4 separate regions of the Homo sapiens genome follow, and all the other regions are linked to region 1. Evidence: fine-mapped expression QTL. A gene starts in region 1. Each other region holds a variant in brackets. All regions are shown on one strand. Distances are from middle to middle.

The links. PIP is the estimated chance that this variant, and not a neighbour inherited with it, causes the effect.
Region 2: its variant is fine-mapped to the expression of ENOX1 in atrial appendage (GTEx, PIP above 0.99). The same link has a PIP of 0.9 or more in left ventricle.
Region 3: its variant is fine-mapped to the expression of ENOX1 in pancreas (GTEx, PIP above 0.99).
Region 4: its variant is fine-mapped to the expression of ENOX1 in tibial nerve (GTEx, PIP above 0.99).

Annotation. Positions count from the first base shown.
Region 1 is chr13:43,784,154-43,789,833 of GRCh38, forward strand. It overlaps ENOX1 (ecto-NOX disulfide-thiol exchanger 1), which reads right to left and starts at 2,819. Exons shown (of 17, transcript NM_001347969.2): 1 at 2,499-2,819.
Region 2 is chr13:43,812,663-43,818,342 of GRCh38, forward strand. LOC124903166 (a long non-coding RNA gene) reads left to right here. Exons shown (of 3, transcript XR_007063773.1): 3 at 1,603-2,154. Among named protein-coding and RNA genes, the nearest start is that of ENOX1, 29 kb to the left of the region's middle. The variant T/G (reference allele first, on the strand shown) is at 2,681.
Region 3 is chr13:43,336,187-43,341,866 of GRCh38, forward strand. The region is part of intron 9 of ENOX1 (ecto-NOX disulfide-thiol exchanger 1); the gene reads right to left. Among named protein-coding and RNA genes, the nearest start is that of ENOX1-AS2, 110 kb to the right of the region's middle. The variant C/T (reference allele first, on the strand shown) is at 2,700.
Region 4 is chr13:43,358,430-43,364,109 of GRCh38, forward strand. ENOX1 (ecto-NOX disulfide-thiol exchanger 1) reads right to left here. Exons shown (of 17, transcript NM_001347969.2): 6 at 2,850-3,023; 7 at 1,422-1,628. Among named protein-coding and RNA genes, the nearest start is that of ENOX1-AS2, 88 kb to the right of the region's middle. RefSeq lists an enhancer at 1,082-1,667. The variant C/T (reference allele first, on the strand shown) is at 2,840.

The DNA of each region.
Region 1 (5,680 bases):
ACTGAATGTACCCTAAAATTACGTGTATAAATATACAACTGTGTGCTGATAGACATACAAATATTTTGCATGTATGCATATGTGATTATATACATTCTCCTACATACAAACCCATCTAAATTTAATAGGCCCACAACTTGAAACTAAATCCCTTAGGGAAATCAAGGTATGAACTAGAGAAATAAAAACACAGAATTATTTTCTTAACAATAGCAATAATTTCCAATTTGTCACATATATCAAATCCTGTTTCTTGAATAGGAGGTCCTCCAGTCAGAAAAGCAATCCTGTCTACTTATATAAAAATGATAATAATGGAAAGCCTTTACCATCTACTTTAGAATCATGTAATACGTTTAATATGTTGATTTACTATCATATGCTACCAATGTGTACAAAGATAATTCAAAGAGTGTTGCTGTTTACAACCAAGAATCTTAAATTTTATTCATCTTAAAAATAATTGAATTGTTCTCCATGGAATAGCCTCATGTGATTCCCCACTTTGTTTTGATATGGGTCCCTGGGGAACAACAGTCATGCTATGTTACTCTTGCATATTTCACTAGCTTACAAATAAAATAACACACAGTGTACTCAATATAAAGTTGTCAACATTAACTTGCATCAGTTGCTGTTTGTTTCACATTGACAAGGCTTCTAAAGATAAGAATTACAATATTCTTAGATGTACAGACACAACATCAAAACAGCCTGAAGGAATTAAAGCTGGAAAATGCTAGAGGCAATCACGCTTTGAAATGAAGAGAAATCAGTATCATTTATACGTACACATATATTTCTTCAAAGGCTCTAAATAATGCCAGAACAATATGCATTTTATGCAATGCTCATCCGTCTTCCCTCACAATATTCCGAAAGCACTTTAACTGTTTAACGCATCTCCTCCAAGAGGGCTTTCACTTTTTCAAACTCATTATCACTTTCAAATCTGTATATTACAAGAAACTGGAATGAGCAATATCCATTACATGAATAGACATTATTAATATAAAGTCTCTATCAAAGTGGCAACGCTAGTAAAACAAAAGCAGAGTGTGTTAACCATAAACTAAGTACCAGCCAATATTACCACTTTGCTTGACAGAGCCGTCTCCAACAGCACGCACCCACCTCTCGAGCGGGCCCACCAGCTCAGCTTTCCAAGCTCGCTCACCTGCGTCTCTCCTCCAGGAATCAATTTCCTTCCCACTTTCTCCACCCTCTTCAGATCCCTTAAGCACGCTTCATTGCTTTCTCCAAACTACCAGACTCAAATCTGCAGCCCAGTTGGCCAGGAACCTTTCCATACGCACGTATTTCCTGCATTCTCCTGGGTCTGCTTTTAAAAATTGCTACCACCAAACAAATGCAATCTTAACAAAATTGGGATTACAAAGCCAGTTTTTTTCATGTAATGTTACAGCAGTGAAAGATTGAGGGAGAGAAAAGGAGAGAAGCAGGAGTGTATCTGGGTGAAGAAGCGTGGCTCAGTGGCTATACAGTGAGACGCAGAGATTCCACAGAGCTGGGCTTGCCCACCTGTCGACCCCACTTTCCCCATGTGCTCGCCGCGGGATGACAACCACAACACTCCAGAACCACCCCCCTTCCGAAAGAGGGCGGGGTTACGCCTTCAGCCAATCAGGACCCGCGAGCCCCGGGTGTCCAACCTATGGGGTGGCTGTGGCCGTGCAGGGGGAGGACGTGGGGTGGTCTGGGAGGGGCCGCGTCCGTGGGAGGCTCGCACGTGTCGGGTCCGGAGAGGCGGGGAGGCGGCCGGCGTCCAGCGGCCGAGGCGCGGGCTCTGCACCCTGGCAGCGGCCGAGTCCGGCTGCCCCAGTGCCTCCTTTACCTCGCGTTGGGCCAGGCAGGGCGCGCTCCCGCCGACGAAGACCTGTCCAAGGTGTCCGAGCTCCCCGCGAGAGGGGACAGTCACGAATAACAACAGTACCCAGCGCAGACTAGGCGGGGAGGAAAGTTTCCGGCCCGCAGCAGAGCGGAGTCCGCCAAGGCTGGAGGAAAAGGGATGCAGAGCGGGAGGGTGAAAACCTGAAAGAAGAGGGCAGCGGGAACACTGTGTGGGCAGGAACGGGTCCCGGGGGCGACGCCCGCAGGGGGAGACGGGTGCGGGGTGCGCTGTCCAAGGTGCAGGGGAGGTGACTGGCGCGCGGCGGGCGCGGAGCCCGGAGCTGACACTGGCTGGCGGGCGGAGGGGAGAGCGGGGAACAGCTGTCTGGGGCGCTGGGCACCCCCGGGCGCGTAAAAGTGAGGGAGCTTGAGACGGGGCACGGCGGGGAAGGGCGTGGGGGCTGCACCGAAGCCCCCACGCGTCCACGCACCCCTCCTCACCAGCCTCACCTCTAGCTCCACTCCCCTCCCCCCTCGCCCACTCCCCTCTCAGTCTAGATCCAGGTGCCGTGGCGGGGGTGAGACCAGAGGACCCCGGCTCGGAGCCCGGACGCCCCAGGGAGGCTGCGGGCCCCGGAGCTGCTTACCTGGGGCCGCCGTATGGGGAGCGGAGGCAACCCGCTGCGCGGAGTGGGGCGCCGGGCGCGGCGCGGCTCCTCCTAGCCTCGGCGTCCTCCTCCTCCTTTGCTTCTCCCGGACTCTGTCCCGGGCACGGAGCTGGGAGACGCGGCCGGGCTGCAGTCGCCGTTCCCTCTGCTGCCGCCGCCGCTGCAGCAGACAGAGGACGCCCCGTGGCGGCTGGAAGCCTGTGTGAGTAGCGGCGCCCGGGAGAGCGGGGATCTGCTGAGGGGCGCTGGAGACTCCGCGGCTGGAGGCGCGCGGGCGTGCGCACGCGCGCCTGCGAGTGTGAGTGTATGGGTGCGCGCGCGCCCACGGGGTGGGGGAGTCGCGAGGGGAGGGGGAGAGAGGCCGAGAGATGCTCGTAGGGACCGAGGCAAAATTCTACGACCCCGGAAATCCGTAAACGCGGGGAAGGAGGATCGAACGCGTGTCTCGCTTGGAGAAGCTGCCCACGGGGCGGCAGCAGAGGAGGAGGGGAAGTCAGCGAGGCGCGCTAGGGCTCCGGATCCCAGCCCGGCAGAGCCGAGCGGAGCGCGCAGCCACCGATGCAGCAGAGGCGGCGCCCGCAGCCCACGGTCGCGCTGCCCCCTCTCGGGAGGGGCCGAGGCCGCTCGCTCCCGCCACCGCCGCCGCGGTCGGGACTGCTCTACTGGGAGCGGGGGAACCGAGAGAGGGACCGCACGGTTGCTACGGCGACCTTGGAGGGGCCGGGCCCGCTGAAGGGCCAAGAGAAGAACCCGGGCGCACGTGGCCGACTCCAGGCTGGAGCGGGCGTGTTACAGGATTGTGGGCTTGGGGTAGACGGTGGAATTGGGCCGCGTGGCCTGGGCAGATGATGCGGGGTGTGCGGCCCAGAGTGGCTCGGCCGGGGTGCGGTCAGCATTCAGGTTGGTAAGGGTGAGGGGATCCTAACCCCAGGTGACATGTTGCCTTTTTTTCCTCCTTGGAGGCTACTTTTTCTCAAAGTTACCCACTTCCCAGGTAAGAATGCCGGCCTCCTCTTTGTTAGGATTCAACTTAGCTGTGCAGGCATCTAAGCAGTGCCTCCTTAGAGTCAGGCTCGTCCAAGAACCGCTCCCACCACCTCCCCACACACACCCACATCCCCCGATCCTCCATCCCAACTACATTGTAATACTTCAGAAATAAATGTTTAAAGCACATTTACATTCTCTGCCTCTTAACAGATATATTGTCTTAGTAGTATACTTTTCCTTGCTTATTTTAAATTCTGAGTGGGATTTTATTCACACAAGCATTTCTTCAAGGGTCGTAAGGTCTGGGTAATACTTGAAATACCCTTTCTGGCAGGAATCCTCAATGCAGGGATTGTGTTTTGCACACTTTTGCATGCCTTCCAGTGCTTAGCATAGTACTCTGTACTTTGTGAGTTCCCTGTAAATGTTGAATGAATGACATTGTTTTCTAGCTTCACGTAACCTGAAGGCAAAGACTTGGATGCTGGGAAAGTCATTACCACCCCACTAGGCTTGCCTGATTTTAACTTATGCCATTTCCTTGTGTGTGGCTATTTTTCCCCCTGGCGGTCAGAACCCCAATGCAAAGAAAGAAAATAATACTTATCCATTGTGCACCCTTAACAAAGGATGCATGTAGAAGCACTCTGCAGGGACCCCAGTGGGATGCCCTGGGTGTGAGGGGGCCAAAGCTCAGAACCTAACCTCTCAAAATGTGAAAGTCAGTGTTCACCAGCAGTTTATACTGTCCCTTCTAGAGCAGAAGGATGGGGAAAACAGTTTTAAGAGAAATACACTTTTGTTTTTTGTTTTTTGAGACGGAACCTCGCTCTGTCACCCAGGCTGGAGTGCAGTGGCGCGATCTCGGCTCACTGCAACCTCTGCCTCCCGGGTTCAAGCGAATTCTCCTGCCTCAGCCTCCTAGTAGCTAGGATTACAGGCGCCGGCCACCACGCTCGGCTAATTTTTTTTTTTTTTTTTTTTTTTTTTTTTTTTTAGTTTTTAGTTTTTAGTAGAGACACAGTTTCACCATGTTTTCCAGACTGGTCTCCAACTCCTGACCTCAAGTGATCCGCCTGCCTCGGCCTCCCAAAGTGCTGGGATTACAGGCATGAGCCACCGCTCCAGGCCAGAAATACACATTTCTAATAGCTTATCAGGTACGCATTTTTCTCCTGTAAAGAGTAGTGTTCATGGACACTGACCAATACATGCAGGGTCACCCCAGACTGCTAATTCTGCTGTCTGGTGTAGCACCAAGTCCACATCCTTCGACCTCGGTATTTCTACAATCATCGTCTTAGAAGCAGAAGTCTTCAATTTTGCATTTCATGCTAAATTTCAATTCCTTTGAACTCAGGCCCGCCTATGAGCTGCTTCTCTCTCCACTCATGATACCACAGCTGTGAAATATAACTGAAATAAAGTGAAAATTAAAATGGATTTATTTGGGTACCGTGTGTTCTTTAGTGGGGGTCCCTTTAACTGATTTATCTACCTTCACTCAATTGACAATCTTCTTAGAAGACATTTGTTGTGATATTGGAGCTTTTTTATTAGGTTGAAAGCTTACTTAAATTTCTCACTTGAAAGGAAGCTCTAAAACTTGCAAAAGAAGCAGAAAAACTCTGATACCGAAAATGGACCCTTGACAGCCAACCTATAGAATGGGTATGAGTCAGAATTTTCCAAAACAATTTTAAAGCTTCATTTTCCTTAGAAAGTTGCTTTTAGGGTTTTGTTGGGCTCAGAAACTAATACCGGAAAATATGGCACTTTGACATGCTGGACTGAAGAAGCAGCCTCAAAGTCTCTCTGACCCTCTCTCTGCCTCCTGTCTCTCAGTCGTCTGTCTCACCCAAAGCACAGGATGAAATTGTTCTCTGAAGGTCTTTCATCTGCCTAGAAACCAGATCTGCCAAAGAAGAACGCACTTGCCTTCCCTGAGTTTTTATTAATCTAACTCACGTCGTAGGAAGAAAGATTGAAGCCTGTCAACACAACTGGACATACTTTTGTCACACTCCTCTGCGGGCCCAACAGACTTTATCCCAGGCCATTTTATGTTCACCAAGCTCATTGAATTCCACTAAAAATTCTTTACTATCCCCCTTAAAATCATCCACATTTCCCTTTCTATTCTTCCCCTATGAAGAAGGGTATATGAGCAT
Region 2 (5,680 bases), 29 kb after region 1:
TGAGTGAATCTGTCAAAGTGTTAGGTATGTTGGGAGGTGTAGGTCAGGAGTGTGGCAGCCAGGACCAGGCTACTATTCAGCCTCTTTGTGTGAAGAGCAGGGGATTTGGGAGGGGTGAGTAGATCTGGACTAAGTCGTCTCCTGAGATCCCTTACAACCCACCCAACTGTCCGGGGGCTTTCTGATTCAGGGTCAGTCTGGTCTTACATATGACCTGCCATAGCTTTGAGGGTTATAAGATATATTATGATAGGTTTTGTTCAAGCACTTGTCAAAACAAAAAATTACCAGGCCATTTCTTTTCACTTTCAAGAGGCATGTTAAAATGGCATCAACCCATTAGTAGCATTTATACCTATAAACAATAGAAACATCTCAACTTAGTGTCTGCCTTTAAGAGAAAAATTTTAAAAATTAAATTGCCACTTCTTCATATTTATTTAGCATATTCACAGGCTAAAAAAGAAATAATTGCAGGTCTCTTAAAGGCCTTATGGCTTACTCCAGAGTCAGTAGTTTCCAGTTTAACTTGGACTAATGGGTTGGTCAGCTAAGGATTGCTTTGGAGAGGGACTTACTTTAATGATTACAGACAACACTGATTCTTAAAGACTTCATGTTCTGAAAAGCATTATAATGATGGAATGATTATAAATAATAATATTCATAGGACACTTTATAAAGAATCCTGCCATAGTTATGATTTCATGTCTAAACCAACGCAGGGAGTAGCACATGAACCAATGGTGTAGATCCTCAGAGACATGTTTCCCTGCTTCCCGACTCCCACCCAGCCTCTGAGTCTCCATACAGCTTGGACTCAAAGATTCTCTTTTATTCCTTCTCCATGATAGTTAGACCCCCGTGCTCAGTTTCGTGGTTGTTCCAGCACGCAAAGGCTATGGTTTGAAATATCCCAGCCTTTCCTTTCTATTTCATCCATATCCTGCCCATCGTCTCAAAGATAGCTCATCTTGTTCACTCCTTGAAAATTTGTGAAACATATTTGGTATTTCATTATATTAACTCTTTCAGTGCTGCTGAACTGTTTCATCTGCTTCAGGTATTAGTGGCAGGAAGGAGAGGACCATGCCTTGCACATTATGTTGCAGAGATTCCCTTAGTAGATGTACACTTGTTGAATAAATGGTCCAGAATCATACCAATTGGAATACTTTCTTAAATCAAGTTACATGTTTGTATGGTGCCCTAGAAAATGTCTAGCACTTCTTAGGTGTTCAATAAATATTAATACTGCACTTGTAACCTGAGATGTTGAATTTGGTTTTAAAATAAGCCAACAAAGTAAGCAAGCTACTTCCCAGGTATGTTACCTTTTATAACTTCTATGTTTACAACTCTACTACCATATTGAGAGAATAACTGTTTAACATGATGACCCTGTGGTAAAAATCCAAACTCATTAAAAAAGAAAAGTTTGAGTTTCAAGTCAGTTACAAGTAAAATCAAATAAAGGAAGAAAGGAAGGAAAGCATGAGGGAGGGAAGGAGAGAGGGAGGGAGGAAAGAAGAAAAAAAGAAAAATTAAAATGCATTTGACATATTGAATGTATTAATTCAATTGCCAACCATTCTTTTGCAGTGCCTCCTAATCCTGGACAACAGAACATTGCTGGACAACCATGGCAAAGCTGAGCTCAGTGGGCTCACCATGGATTTACTCTGATCTGCATTACTTAGATCATTAATGTCAATCCCTTTTTTCCCAGTAGCTTTATGTCTGTTCACATCATTTCATTCTCAATTGCACTAGCTCTGTGCTTTTACCCTTAGCTGTTATCCTCACCCTCTATCTAAACAAGAGCTCCTTTGATTTCCTTCCTCCTCACTTTAAAATTTTCTTTTGCCTTTGATCGTTCTCTTATTTTTCTCATCCTGTCTCAGGAATGCTCTTTCTTCCCAAGGCTATGCCTTCCTCTCTGTATGGATCCTGTCCCCTCCTGGCTTTCCAGGACTACTGCATGAATTACCTTCTATTTTCTTGCATCTTCAGTGTCACCCTTTTCATGAGCTCTGCAACAGTCCTATTGCCCAAGCTCTAGAAAATCCCCCTCTTAAATTATTGTATTTCTAGCCTTTCATTTACTATCTCATTTCTCAAAAGTGCAATAAACATGTAATTTCCCTTTTTCTACTCTTTTGGTTTGAGGCATATTATCCTTCTATTTCTCACACCTAAGGCCTCAAATTCCACCTGTAAGGGGGTGAGCTTGCACTTAGGTTCTAGGCTAAATCTAGTCACAAGAAAGCAACTAGTGCAGTTAGATTCACAGTTTAGAGTGTCTGTGGAAATGCTTCACCTTGGGATGGGATTCTGCCTGCATTACTGTTACTTAAGCATACTGATGCCACCTGGATATTCACCTGCTTCAGCTTCTGCCTGTTGACCCCTTGCACACTACTTTCTCCCCCTCTCATGTTTGGAAGAATCAACCTCAAAATGTTAACTTCATTATTGATAAAGCCAACTGGGGAACATGTCTTTAGATGTTTGGTCAAAAGCCTTGCTGAGTTGAATTTTCTCCTACAACAGCAGCCCAGAATGCACTCTCTCTGCACTTGGTTTGCAGGCTGGCTTATGGAGAGTCAGGGGTTAAGTGTTCTTCCAACTTTGCAAAAGATAAATCAGTCATCTACTAGGAAAAGAGGAAAATCAGAGA[T/G]AAGCTGAAAGCATTCCTCTCATAATTTTCCATTCCTGGGGAGTAGATTTGACATTTTCTTCCCTTAATGGAAACATGAGTCATGAGGAATAAATGCTCCCTGCTATCAGTCCTCTCTCTCCCTTCTAGGGCTTCTCCTGGTTCCTGTTCGGCCCCCAGAAAGCTTGTCTAATCTTGGCTAGCCTGATCCAGCCTCCACCAGCCCCGATGCTGCTGGTATACACTTGCTCCTTAACCACACATACTGTGGTTTCTGCTTTAACAATCAGCCATAGGATTTTAATTACCCAATCTAGCCACACGTTCTCAGTCCTTTTCTTCTCTAACTTCTCAGCTCAAAAATTTTGAATACATCCCATTTGATTGTGGACAAAGAGGCAATGATCATGGGGTAATGCACTATGTTTTTGTACACTAAGTTTCTTTTGTAAATACCATTGTTTCTGGCCAGGCGTGGTGGCTCACACCTGTAATCCCAGCACTTTGGAAGGCCGAGGCAGGCGGATTGCCTGAGGTCAGGAGTTCGAGATCAGCCTGACAAACATGGTGAAACCCCCTCTCTACTAAAAATACAAAAATTAACTGGGTGTGGTGGCACATGCCGGTAATCCCAGCTACTGAGGAGTCTAAGGAAGGAGAATTGCTTGAACCCAGCAGGAGGAGGTTGCAGTGAGCCAAGACTGCGCCACTGCACTCCAGCCTGGGTGAGAGAGCAAGACTCTGTCTCAGAAAAATTAAATAAATAAATAAATAAATAAAGCCATTGTTTCTAATTTTTTTTTTTAAAAAAAGCTGTTTCCTTAACATTCCAGTATGCTCTATTCTAAGGCTTTTCTAAAAATCAGTATTCATATAAAAAATACTTTCTACTGATGTAGAAGAGGGGTAAGAACTTTGGAGTGAAAACAGATTAAAGCTTGGGTTTGAATTCCAGTTCTGACACTTACTAATTAAATGACTTTATTTAATTTCTCATCACTTTAGTAATTTCATTTCTAAACTGGTGATTAACAGTGGCTAATGTGTATTAAATACATAATGCTAATCACTGAGGGCTTTATATGCATTATCTTATTTAATCTTACAACTCCATGAAGTAATCCTATTATTATTTCCATTTTACAGATTTTTAAAATGAGATTTAATGAACAAAAGAAACTCGCCCAAAGTCACACAACCAGTAAGTGAGAGAGTTTGGAATAAAATCTAATAAAACACATATTTGAACTCAAGTTTATGTAAATCCGAAGTTAAAGCTCTTAAAAGCTGTGCTTTTCTTTTTCTGTACTTAGTATATGCAAAGATCTCCTACAGTGCCTTGTGCTGATTATGAAGTCACCAGACAATAGCTGTCATTATCATCACTGCCATCATTATTATAAACAAAACATTACGTTCGAGCTTGGCCATCAGTCTTTTTGCAGTGTTTTTCAATTTGGTTTCTTATTATGGATTCACTAAAAGGAGTCAATTTCTCTTTTTATATGGACACTTTGTAGTAGAATTGAAGATAACAATTATTAGATAAATTGACATGGTGTTATTCATGTACTAGAAGGAAACATTGACATATTTCTTAATAAGCTGAGTATGAGAAAAACTTTCCTAACTATGACACAAAATACAAAAACAGTAAAACAATTGATCAGTTCAACTACATAAAAATAAAACAACTTTTGCATGGCAAAAGTAATATAAAAAAGTAAAAAGACAAATGACAAGCTGGGGAAAATAATTGCTACTTCTGTCACAAACGAAAGATTATTCTGGCATGAAGACAGCCACATTGACCTACAGGATAGAATAGAATGCCAAGAAACAAGCTCTCACATAGATGGTCAAAACATTTTTGACAAGGGGACCAAGACCATACAATGAGGAAGAAACAGCCTTCCACAGATGGTGCTGGGAAAACTGGGTATCTACTTGCAAAAGAATGAAGTTGGCCCCTGCTTTTATACCACATACAAAAATCAACTCAAAATGTATCAAATATTGGGCTGGGCATGGTGGCTCACACCTGTAACTCTAGTACTTTGGGAGGCCAAGGTGGGTGGATCACCTGAAGTCAGGAGTTCGAGACCAGCCTGGCCAACATGGTGAAACCCTGTCTCCACTAAAAATACAAAAATTAGCCAGGCATGGTGGCACATGCCTGTAATCCCAGCTACTTGGGAGGCTGAGGCAGGAGAATCACTTGAACCCAGGAGGCAGAAGTTGCAGTGAGCCGAGATTGTGCCACTGCACTCCAGCCTGGGTGATAGAGCCAGACTCTGACTGAAAAAAAAAGTATCAAAAATCTAAACATAAGAGCTAAAACAATAAAATTACTAGAAGAAAAAACATGGTGGAAAGCTTCATGACATTGGATTTAGCAAAGATTTCTTAGATATGATGTAAAATCACAGGCAATGAAAAATAGATAAATAGTTGAACTACATCAAAATGTCAAAATTCCGTGCACCAAAGGACATAGTAAATGATGTAAAAAGGCAACTAACTTTTTTTCCTTCATTTCAACTTTGGTGAAACTGACAATTATGTGTCTTGGAGTTGCTCTTCTCGAGGAGTATCTTTGTGGCGTTCTCTGTATTTTCTGAATTTGAATGTTGGCCTGCCTTGCTTGATTGGGGAAGTTCTCCTGGATAATATCCTGCAGAGTGTTTTCCAACTTGGTTCCATTCTCCCCGTCACTTTCAGGTACACCAATCAGACGTAGATTTGGTCTTTTCACATAGTCCCATATTTCTTGGAGGCTTTGTTTGTTTCTTTTTATTCTTTTTTCTCTAAACTTCTCTTCTCGCTTCATTTCATTCATTTGATCTTCCATCACTGATACCCTTTCTTCCAGTTGATTGAATTGGCTCCTGAGGCTTGTGCATTCGTCACGTAGTTCTCGTGCCGTGGTTTTCAGCTCCATCAGGTCTTTTAAGGACTTCTCTGCATTGGTTATTTTAGTTAGCCATTCATCTAATTGTGATCGGTGTGCTGCACCCACTG
Region 3 (5,680 bases), 450 kb before region 1:
TGTTTGGCTGAGATGTTCCTAAGAAGTAAATGATTTCAGAAAGAGCTTTTCAGGCAGAAGAAATGTGGACGAGGACACCAATCTGCCTAAAAGGGGGATCACAGTACACAGAGATCAGAAACCCCTCACATTTCACTCTAGCACTTAGCACACAACTTGACACTTGATAAATATTTGTGGAATGAATTTAATCATTCAGACACTTGAGGCTTTTACAATTTTACCCAAGAAGATAGATGAGGGCGTGACAGTGGAGAACTGTCAGTGCCCTGCGCAGCTGTCTTTGACAATAATTCTGACCAATCTTCAGCACCTGCAGAATGCAATGCACATAACCTCAGGGTTGAAATGTGGCTTAAAATTCACAGTGTAGCCCAGGAGGAGTAACCTTCACAGCAAGGTATAGGCAGAACATTTGCACAGAGTAATATCTGATTGCCTGTTCTATGATCACTTTAGGAGCTTTGAACCTCATGGTTGGGTCCTGGAAGATACCTGTATTTAGATATCCAGAGACGATAAAGGATCCACATGGTTGACATAAGAACTGTGGAATCTTAAGGGTGGAAAGGAACTTTAAGGGATTACTGGTTAAACCCTTTTATTACAGAGATGAGAAAAAGGAGACTGAAGTTGCTTAAAAGACTTTCCCAAAGTCACAAGGCTAATTAGTGGTCAAACTTGGATTAGAACCAGATCTCTCTGCCTTGTCAAAAGTCTTTCCACCATTTGCAGCTTTTAAGACCTAAGATGAGGCTGATGCCATTACCTATCACAAATGTATAAAGTTGCATGACAGTTCTAACCTTTCCAATCTCCAGGTTGAAATGATATTGATAACGGTACTCTAATACTCCTACTGTAAAATTCTCAACTAAAGTATATGCCGTATGCTCCACTTTAAAGAGAATGGCATATTAGAGCTAAGATCATTGAGATCACGGTTTACTAAAAAACACTTAGGCTGTGTTCTGCAATATTAGGTTCTAGCCCAATTTTCAGCACCACGTTCCTTTCCACCTGTGATTGGTCAACAACCAATATTTTTTTTCTTAGGTCTTCTATGTGCTTACAAGAATTATGCCAGGTCCAGAAGTGGCACAGTGAGGTAGAAAAGAGAACAGTAAGTGGCTCATGTCTCTATTTAGCCTAAAATCTTGCTAGAGGGAAAATCAAGCAAACAAACCAATAAACTTGATGCACATAAAATAATTAGAAAATAAGTAAGTCCTCAAGTAGATAGTATTAACAAGCGCTGCAGAAGGTAGGTGAAAGGGAGATGATTATGGGTTATAATGGATAAACAAGGTTTCATGGAGGAAATGTGATAGAAGTGGACTTCAATTTTGGCACTTGGAGGAGGGGAAATAGTTCAGGCAAAGGAAACAGCACAAGCAAATGTGTGGAGGTAGGAAAGAGGGTAGTGCCAGAAGCAAATACTTCATTTTTTAGCCAGATAGCAGCATTTATACTCAGTGTGATGACAGCACACCTCTTCAACTCTACCTATAAGCTGTACCTTTACATTTATAATATTCTTAATTTTCATTTTACACACACACACATACACACACACACACTTAGAAAGCAAACTGTACAAGGAGCCAAGAGTCTTGGTTCTAAACTGCCCATAAACTACTAAATGACCAAAGCCTCTCACGTCTGCTCTCTGAGACTCAGTTTCCTCCTCTGTAAAATGACAGGGTTTGGCCCAACCCTTTAAGATCCCTCTTAGCTCTAACATTCTATAATTTCTGCTTTTTATCCATGCTCATTATATGTATGGCACATATTCTTAAATTAATGTTAATCAACCCTTCTGCACTGCTGCTGGCTTTCCCATTTGCCTTTTCTCCAGTTTGTTCCCTTCTCTCTTACCAGGAAGCATGTTGGGAAAGTAGCAAAATGGGGATATCATGGAGTGTTTAAATTTTTATTAGATATGTGTGTGTTGTAATTGTTAAAAGGCATGCAAAACTTATCATCTTGGCATGCATATTAATAACTGAATGTGGTAGTCCATGCTTCCTGAACTTTATAAACAGCTCCTGTACGAGCTTTGAAATGACAAGCTTTGTTCATAACTGAGAAACTGAAAGTGGGCAGGCCTATGGGGAGTTTCTGTGAAGTATGCATTTTTAAAAAGCAAAGATAAAAACTCCAACGTCTCCGAGTTGGAAAACCTGGGGAAGTTTCTGGCAAATGGACGGGTTAAGAAATGACATAAAGATGAGACTAGGATGCTATCGGGATAAGGTGACATGACAAAGATGATTTACCTGTTCCGAATTTTTTTTTCTCTTTCTTCTATATCTAGGAAATGAGGTCTATCCAGCTGGCCCAGAAGGGAGGAGAAAGCCCCAGGTGCCACAGCAGGATAGACGATGTCCTCATCTAACATTTTTCATAACTGGACATCCATGGTCAGAAGAGAAAAATCGCCCTACACAGAAGTGAATGGATGCCATACTCCCCAAAATTCAGGTTGGGTTTTTTTTTTTTTTTTTTTTTTTTTTTGAGATGGAGTCTCGCTCTGTCACCCAGGCTGGAGTGCAGTGGCGCCATCTCGGCTCACTGCAAGCTCTGTCTCCCAGGTTCACGCCATTCTCCTGCCTCAGCCTCCCGAGTATCTGGGACTACAGGCGCCCGCCACTGCCCCCGGCTAATTTTTTGTATTTTTAGTAGAGACGGGGTTTCAC[C/T]GTGTTAGCCAGGATGGTCTCGATCTCCTGACCTCGTGATCCGCCCGCCTTGGCCTCCCAAAGTGCTGGGATTACAGGCGTGAGCCACCGTGCCCGGCCTCGGGTTGGGTTTAATTACAGCCCCCTGACACTTTAAGCTAAGACTTTGCTAAAAACAATGACTGTTTGATATTTAATAGCTGGTCCTGGGGTGAAGACCAGAGATATAAAAAAGGTTAGAACTTTCATAAATACGGGCAGAACTAAACACCAACAAAGCTAGAGGGTAACTGATGGACTTTGATGGAGACCTTTGAATAAATCACAACTTTTTCTTTATGTTATTATGAATGACTTGTGACGTTTTTCAAACAACTTTTGTTAAGCACTGAACTTCAGGAACGGTGGCTGGAGAGCAATCTAGGCCAAACATTTGAGCCTATGGATCCTTTCCAAATGAAAGCAAGAACAAGTACACAAGCACAGAAAGGAGATAGGTGCATCTAATCCAGCTCATGGATCACATCTGAAGTTTCCCTTGTCCTATTCAACCAATTGGTTATTTCCAGCCAAATCCATAAGGGGACCCACATGCTTTTACCATGCTTTGAATTCTGCAATGTACCTGATCTTCCCTAGAAGCTGCGGAGTGAGCCCTCCGTGTTTGGCTTGTTTGCGGCCTGCTCCACTAGTTAGCCAGTTTGCCAATACACCTGCTTCCAAACCACCTCACAACAATTTCCCAACATGCTTGGCTGTTTAGTGGACAGGCTACCATGGAATGCCATGAAGGACGGCATTGACACTGGGGAGATCTTTCGGCACTGACACTAAGGAGATCCTTTATGTGGAGAGGGAGCAGTTGGGGCTGCTATGGAATAACCAGGAGATTTCCAGCCACCTGGGAGAAGGAAAGCTGAGGTGCAATTCCTGAATACTCATGCTTAACAATTCTAATCTCATTCTAAGGGAAGAAGCCAAAATGTGATTCCTGTGGTATTTGCCAGGAATATTAATGCAGACAAATGGGGTGTGACTGGTTCTGCTTTTGGAAAATGCAGCAAGTGTGTCAGTCACTGAGGACTTTAGCAGTTATTGTTTTACAAGCATCCCCAAAGTCCTGACATCAAACACATCTTACCACACTGAACAGAGCTGTGGAAAGCAAGAAGTACAGTTGAGACACAAACATAGCTCCACTAGAGAGAGGGAAATTCGGGACAGGAAAGGAGAGGCATTTGGATTAAAGGATGAGGAGATGTGTATGTACCTACCATGTTAGTCAGGTTACTGCTAATAGTTTCACAGACTGGGTTCCTTTTTGCAGCCCTTTTTGTAAAAGCACATAGAAGAGAATGGAAAGTTCTGAGGTTGCTCAATGAGATATGCAATCTTCTGGTTCTGCCTCACAGGCTTAATTCTAGCCCAGGCTCACATTTAAGGTATCCCCCATCTTCGAGTCATCCTGAAAGATCTTGGCTGTCAAAGACTCACAGGAAGGCTCCTCAGAGTCTCCATTGCTGGGATGTGTACACCGTGGCCAGCACTGTAGGATTTTCACAATCTCGGTTGATATCTGCCAACTGCTGAAATACTTCTCAGAATCAAATTACAGGGCTAAGGGGGACTCCCAAATAGTAACAGGCAGATGGTAAATACAGAGGTTGTTGGATGGTTACAATTGGGGATACTACAACGTAAATTTCTGATGATTCTTTCACCCCAACTCTCCTAATATTTCCTAGCCTCTGACCAAGAATTTGGTAAAGTGTGGCAATTTCCAATAAAAAGTACAGCTATTGAGCTTTTTCTCTGATTTGCTTCATTATGCATGCAAGTTGAAACCTTGTTTCCTGCAGATGATGCTAATATCAATGCCAAACTACTCAACGAGGTCACCAGAAATTTCTGAACTCACTGTTTCAGGGTTCCCTCCTGCCTGTCTTCTGATCTACTCATTCATTCACTCACTCATCCACCAAATATTTCTTGCATATTTCTATGTTATAAGGCTTGATATATATTGATGACTTGATATATATTGATGTCTCTTCCTTTGTGATGCCTGCTATAATAACTAAAAGCAGACATATCATGAAATCACTACTCATTTGGATAAGTGTTACAAAGGACCTTCATAAAGATTCAGTGGGCTGGGCACAGTGGCTTACACCTGTAATCCCAGCACTTTGGGAGGCCGAGGCGGGCAGATCACGAGGTCAGGAGATCGAGACCATCCTGGCTAACATGGTGAAACCCTGTCTCTACTAAAAATACAAAAAATCAGATGGGCGTGGTGGCGGGCGCCTGTAGTCCCAGCTACTCGGGAGGCTGAGGCAGGAGAATCATTTGAACCCGGAGGCAGAGGTTGCAGTGAGCCGAGATTGCACCACTGTACTCCAGCCTGGGTGACAGAGTGAGACTCCATCTCAAAAAAAAAAAAGAGAGAGATGCAGTGATGGCAAATCTACTAGAAGAGGGTGGACCAGAAAAACCTCTCTGAAGAGGTGGCTCTTGATCCAAGACCTATAGGATAAGAAGAAGTCAAGCACACAGAGTATGGGAAAGGGCACCCCAGGCAGAAGGAACAGAACGTATAAAGCCGAGTGGTGGAAGGTGGTTTTGATGGGCTCAGGGGGAAAGGGGCCAGTGGAAATGATGCATGGTGAGTCTGAGGATAACTGAAGCTAAAGAAGTGAGCACAGAGAGCTCTGTCAGCTAGGGACAGTGAATATTCTCTAAATGCAATGGGGAGATACTCAAACGGTTTACTGGGGAAGACATGACCTGATTTGTATCAGATGGAATGTGAAAATAAATCAAACTAGAGTAGAAGTAGAAAGGGAAGCACTCTGTATGGCAAAAACTGCAAAATTCTTCCTAGTAGCCATTCTCCACTCCTGCCTTATTATGAGAACTCCAATTTTACTCTGGAGAGCAGCAGGCCCAGTCAAAAATTATATTTCTCGCATTCTTTGTAGTTAGGCATGGCCAGGTATAAT
Region 4 (5,680 bases), 430 kb before region 1:
TGCAGGATATACATGGGGCGGGGGCGGGGGGTCCTGGAACCAATCCTCCAAGTGTACTGAGGGATGACTGCAGTTTTCTTGGTACAGCTGTGATTAGAAGCCAGGTCCCCAGGATAGGGTTCTTGAGATAGAAAAATCCGTCCTTCTTTATCATCATCAGGATATTTGTGTTAAAAACAACCATTTCCTGAATGGTTTCTATGTTGCAGGTGCCCTGCTAAGCACTTAATATCCATTATTTGATTTATTCCTCCTCACAGTCCTACGAGGTCATGCTGTTACTATCTTTATTTTATAGATGAGAAAATGGAGGCAGGCTCTAGGCCGTGAAACCCAGTGCCACAAACTCACCAGAACCCCCGTTGTCTAACAGCGGATTGTGTGTTATGAAATGTCTTCATTCTAGGCTTTGTCTTCCTTCTCCATTTTGTATTGCTTTTAGTTTTTATTTTCTACTTTGTAAGGTTTTACTGAAATAAGGGGTTTTAAAGTTCTCCATATCACTGTCTACCTTAGGAAAGTCTCTGCAGTATTGGAATAACCTCAAGTCTTCTGGAGTTTGCACAGAATTTCGTGGCAATAGAGGTGGACTGCAGAAATTAAGTAAAACCTGGCAGGAATGCTCAGATAGGTCCCCCTGCCCCTCCCCACCCCCACCCGCTACTGTTTTCCCACATTCCCCCATCAGCTTTGCCTCAGGAATAGGGAGGTGAAATGCAGAGGGACAGACTGAAAAATGGAGGTGGGGAGTGTGAGGGAAGGGCAGTGAGTTCAGTCTGAGAATGTGTCCTTCCAAAGCCAGCCCCTAATTCTTGGGTTTGGCAAAGGCCTTGCGGACAGACTCCATTCACTTGGCCCAATACCCACAGATGGGAAGGCAGCACTAGGCCTAATCTCAGTATCTGTAAAAATCGCCTATAAAAATTGACACCAGAGGACAAGGCTTAATGAACCACCAACGAGGCAATGATACTGGGCCTTCTCCTAGGGCCCCTAAGCTACTTTCCTGCAAGGAACTGACCTTGCTTTGGTACCTTGGTGTCCAGAAAGTGAATCCACTTCCAAAAACCTGAAATTATTCTGAGAGAGTACTTTACTCCTCCTAAGGATTACATCCAGTAAGAATAATGGTCCTTAGTACTCATAATATTGCTTCTCATCTAATAAGCACTTGAGAACATTAATTAGAAACTCGATGGAATTCCTAAAGACTGGATGGTGGGAAATTGCTCCTGCAGTGAAGTACCTTCACAGGCTTAGCGCAGAGCTTCTGGCAGCCAAGGAAGAAGGCAGAATTCCTCCTTTTCCAGCCCCAAACTATGAAGACTTTATTTTGCATGAAGGCCAAAGGGAATAAGCTCATATTAACATCACAAAACATAACAAAATGCCTAGAAAACTCCTTATGTAATGCAAAGTACCAGAAAGGTAAATGGCTTTATCAACCATGAATTCCTCTGCAAAGCGAATGTGACAAAAATTCTTCTTGCTTTTCCGAATTGCTGTAATATCACCGCACTGTTCAAAGACTTCTTGAATAATTTCCTCAGTAGCATTTTCTGGTAATCCTCCGACAAACACGGTCTTACACCCAGGAGGTCGTTCTCTTGTGGAAGGAGGTGGAAGATCTAATAATCACAACAAAACAGAAAGTTTTATCTTTCATTTATTTGCTTTCTCTGGTTCTCCTGGCAAAACTAAAGCTTGCAGAGTAACTTTCTCCAGACTGAGTGACGGTAAATTTCTATGCCAACTTAACATTGATCCCAGGCTGTCTTGTTTCTAAGTTCCTCTCCCCTCCTGCTCCCAACCTTTACTTTCTGTGTTCATTGCTACACAGAGTGGCTATATGCTTGTCCATGAACAAAGATAAAGCAAATGTTTGCATAATTTCATTTCTCCTTTATACTACAGAAGCCCAGAAAAGGGAGGGAAAAAACTTCCCAAAGTACAAAACATGACGAAATGACAACATGATGAAAAACCTCAGCGTGTTATCTGCTTTGTCTTGTTTCCAGATAAAGGAGCGGCAAAACAGAATACGGGAAGCATAACCTACAAAAGCACGCACAATACTTACTTGGCTGTGAAACACCGGGCCTGAAAAAAACCACTTTGTTATTATTCACATTTAAATGAGCAAACTATTAAATTTTGGGAAGGCTGTATAAAAAGATACAATGTACACTCTCACAATATTTTACCTAGTTTATATGTAGATTACTAAAGCAATCTCCTGAAAAGTCCACTTAAAAAAGGCAACACTGATTAATATGAATGACAAAAAAAAAAAAAAGTCCTAGCTCTTTTAGCCCATAAACTTAGTATCTGAGGCAAAATTAAAAAAATAAAATTCTGGCCCATTTACTTCATCAAATGTATGTTTCCTTCAAGCAAATACAATTTGGTCCAGAAACTCTGAGATGCAGGCTTCCCTCTCCCCAGCCCCCAAATTGCTAACTGTCAAATTAATTCCATTTTCCATCTAGCAAAACATATTTCAGAGTTTTTCACCCACATTTGTGAAGATGGATGGAAATGCTCACATATTTCACACTGTGTTCTCCGGCAAACACTAGGCTTCACTGCATGCAAAAAGTCTTAACGCTGGATACACATCCCTAAATCCCACATACTGGCTTTATAGTGTGGATTCAGCTTCTGGACAGACACGTGGCCACATCCCTGTATATTTATTGTAACCTAGAGACAAAAGGCCTTCTGTAGAACGGATCCCCACTCTGTGCATTTACGTGTGAGTCACATCTGAAAATGACTGCAATGCCATTTTAAAATTTAAAAAGAAAAACATTTAAAATGAGCAAATATTTCTCATAGG[C/T]GTTACTTACTTGGATTTTGAGGAAAAAGAGTACAGCTTTTGCAGTGGATTATTTCTTTGACAACAGCCACTTCTGTTGGTGGTGGGGGAGGTACCAGTCCAAGGCCTGGTATCATTGGGTTAATGGGGGTGATTCCAGTCATCATGTTGAGGCTTGGATCAAAGCCTGGGACACAGATTGAGTCTGTAAAGTATACAAGATAACATTTTGACTGGAGATTAAATCCATTTTTGTTGTTGTTTTTGCCATTTTCCTGTGGATTATTTGACTTTATACTTTCTATTTTTCAGGAATTTCTCCTGGCATAAGATATAATATTATAGAAAGCTATGCCAGAAGGGTAAAGAGAAAAAAAGTAAAAGATGAACATTAAACTACATGAAAAGGAAATTATATTACTTAAAATATTAACATGGCAGAAAGAACACAGCATATTAAAATGTAAAAGCATGCACCATGAAGCTTCACTATTACTGTGAATGCAATTTTCTATTTCTTAACGTTGGTGTATTGTTTATACCACCTTATGACCCAGAATATGGGAAGAATATCATTTAACATTGAAGTGCTCTGTGAATCTAATTGTCAACGTGGTTTCATCAAAAGAGCCTTCTTACCCAAGTGACCTAGATTTAGGAAAGTTCAATTTATATGTGCATACTTTATAATGATGTATTCAGGTCCCACCTAACCTATTTCCCCTGGAATAAAAAAAAAAAAAAAAGCAAAACAAAGAGTGATTACAATTACTATGGCTGGGTTAGATACATGCAGGCATAAAATTAGCTATATACATTTCTGGCTTCTATTGGATAATTGCACTTTCTTCCTATAATTTAGTCAACAAAGAATTGACCCACCCTTTTGAAATCTTTATGCCCTGTATTACACACACACACACACACACACACACACACACACTTGAAAATAGAAAGTGTGCAAAACAAATGGGTTTTCCAGCTTTTTTTTTTTTTAGTGTGATAATGAAGCAAGTGATTTCAAAGGTGGCATACAGACACTAATAAGTAAGACCTTTCTAACAGCAGGGGCTATGAAAATACTATACTGAGTAGCCACAAGGGGATCCCGTTCATGAGGGTTTCCCTGTTGGCAGAAAAGTCTCATGGGTGGCGTGAAAATGTTCCCAGATAGACAGGCCAGGATAGATCATGGTGCCCTCCTCTACTCTGCAAGGATGAAACTTCCTTCTTGTCTCATACCATCCTATCTTCTTCTCCCTCCTCATCTTACATCACTTCCAGTCTTCCTTCCTGCCCGCCACCCCTGCCCCCGACAACCCCTTTGTACAGTTCTCCTGTACAGCCTGTGCCTTAGGCCTCCGCATGGCCTCACTCTTCGCTTACCTGTGCTGAAAGGCTGGAGGAGCCCAGAAGCAGATGTAAGAATAACCACACGCTTTGTTTACTAAGAAGCTCCAGAGAATACAGAAGGTCTAGCAAAAGCGTTTCCTTTCTGGGAAAAGGTTTACAGATTCCGCCAGCTACTTTGGACATTTCCACTCCTCCTCTGGGCTGAACAGAATAAACAATGTGATTCTGATCTATAACCCCAAGAGGACTGCTGTCCCATTTATTAAAAACTCCATTTAATTTCATAGTGTATCAGTGTGACTTCAGTAAAAGGAGGATTTTTTTTTAAAAGAAAAGAACCCTAAATATAAATGACAAATAAGCATTTTCTTTCAAAGTAGTCACCCTGACATTCTAGGTACTTCCTCTACAATTATGGCTCTCAGTTTCTTCATCTGTAATATGGTACTGTTTGACTGGATTATCTCTTGGAGTGCTAGAATTCCAAGACTCCAGGATTCCATGCTGATGTTGCTCAGTACAAACTGACACACAAAAGACTTAAAGTTTTATAAGTGACAGAGATGACTCTGTTTATTCTGTCAATCATCAGAAAGTTTCACAAGTATGATTTCCATTTTACAGAAAAGAAAGTAAGGCTTAAAGTACTTAAGTAAAACTTCTAACATTCCAAATCAAACAGATGGCAGAGTCAGAATGAGGGCCCAGGTCTTTGCCTCAGTATTTAAACATGTATTAAATGTGACTATTTCAAAGTTTCCATCTAGAATGACCCAACATGATTACTCATCTAATACATGCCACTACTTCTTAAAATGTACTTTACCCTTAAAAAAATCAAGATGGGTCCTGCCGATCAATTCTAAAGAAGTTCCAGAACAGAATGGTTTTCAACATCATCATCATTAAAATAACATATTGGCCTCCAAGGTGAATATATTAGAAAAAGAAATATTGGCAATGGGAATATTGGCATGCTTGTGCTTTTATTTAATCTCATTCCGTACATCGGCTTCATCTGTTTTTTTCCTGGCCTGGCCCTCGCTATTATTTGCCAACACAGGATGATTTAAGGCTGAAACCACTCAGGACTGCAAACCCTGAAATGAGAGCCCTGTGAATTATAATCAGCAGATGTTTCCCACAAATGAGAAGAGAAGCCCAGTGCTTGCATTCTCTTTAGTTGTTAACAGACTTCTGTTTTCTTTCTGAAGGCTAAGTAAATAAATATATGTCCAGAAATGGGGACAGAAGATACCACTCTTGTACAACGTATTTTAATATACAGCAAGAGTTGCTTTGCTTTTTTCTGAGACATCAGTATGAGGAGACTATGAGGTTTAATGAAATCTGCATGGCAAGTGCAGTAGCTTGAAAAGAGCTTAGAAAGGAATTAACACGTAAATTATGTTGGACCTGAAAGGATTGGAGATTCAGTATTTGAGAGGAGAAAGTAAGGAAGGATTAGACTTTAAGAAAAAAAAAGAACCCATTACTTTTTTAACAATA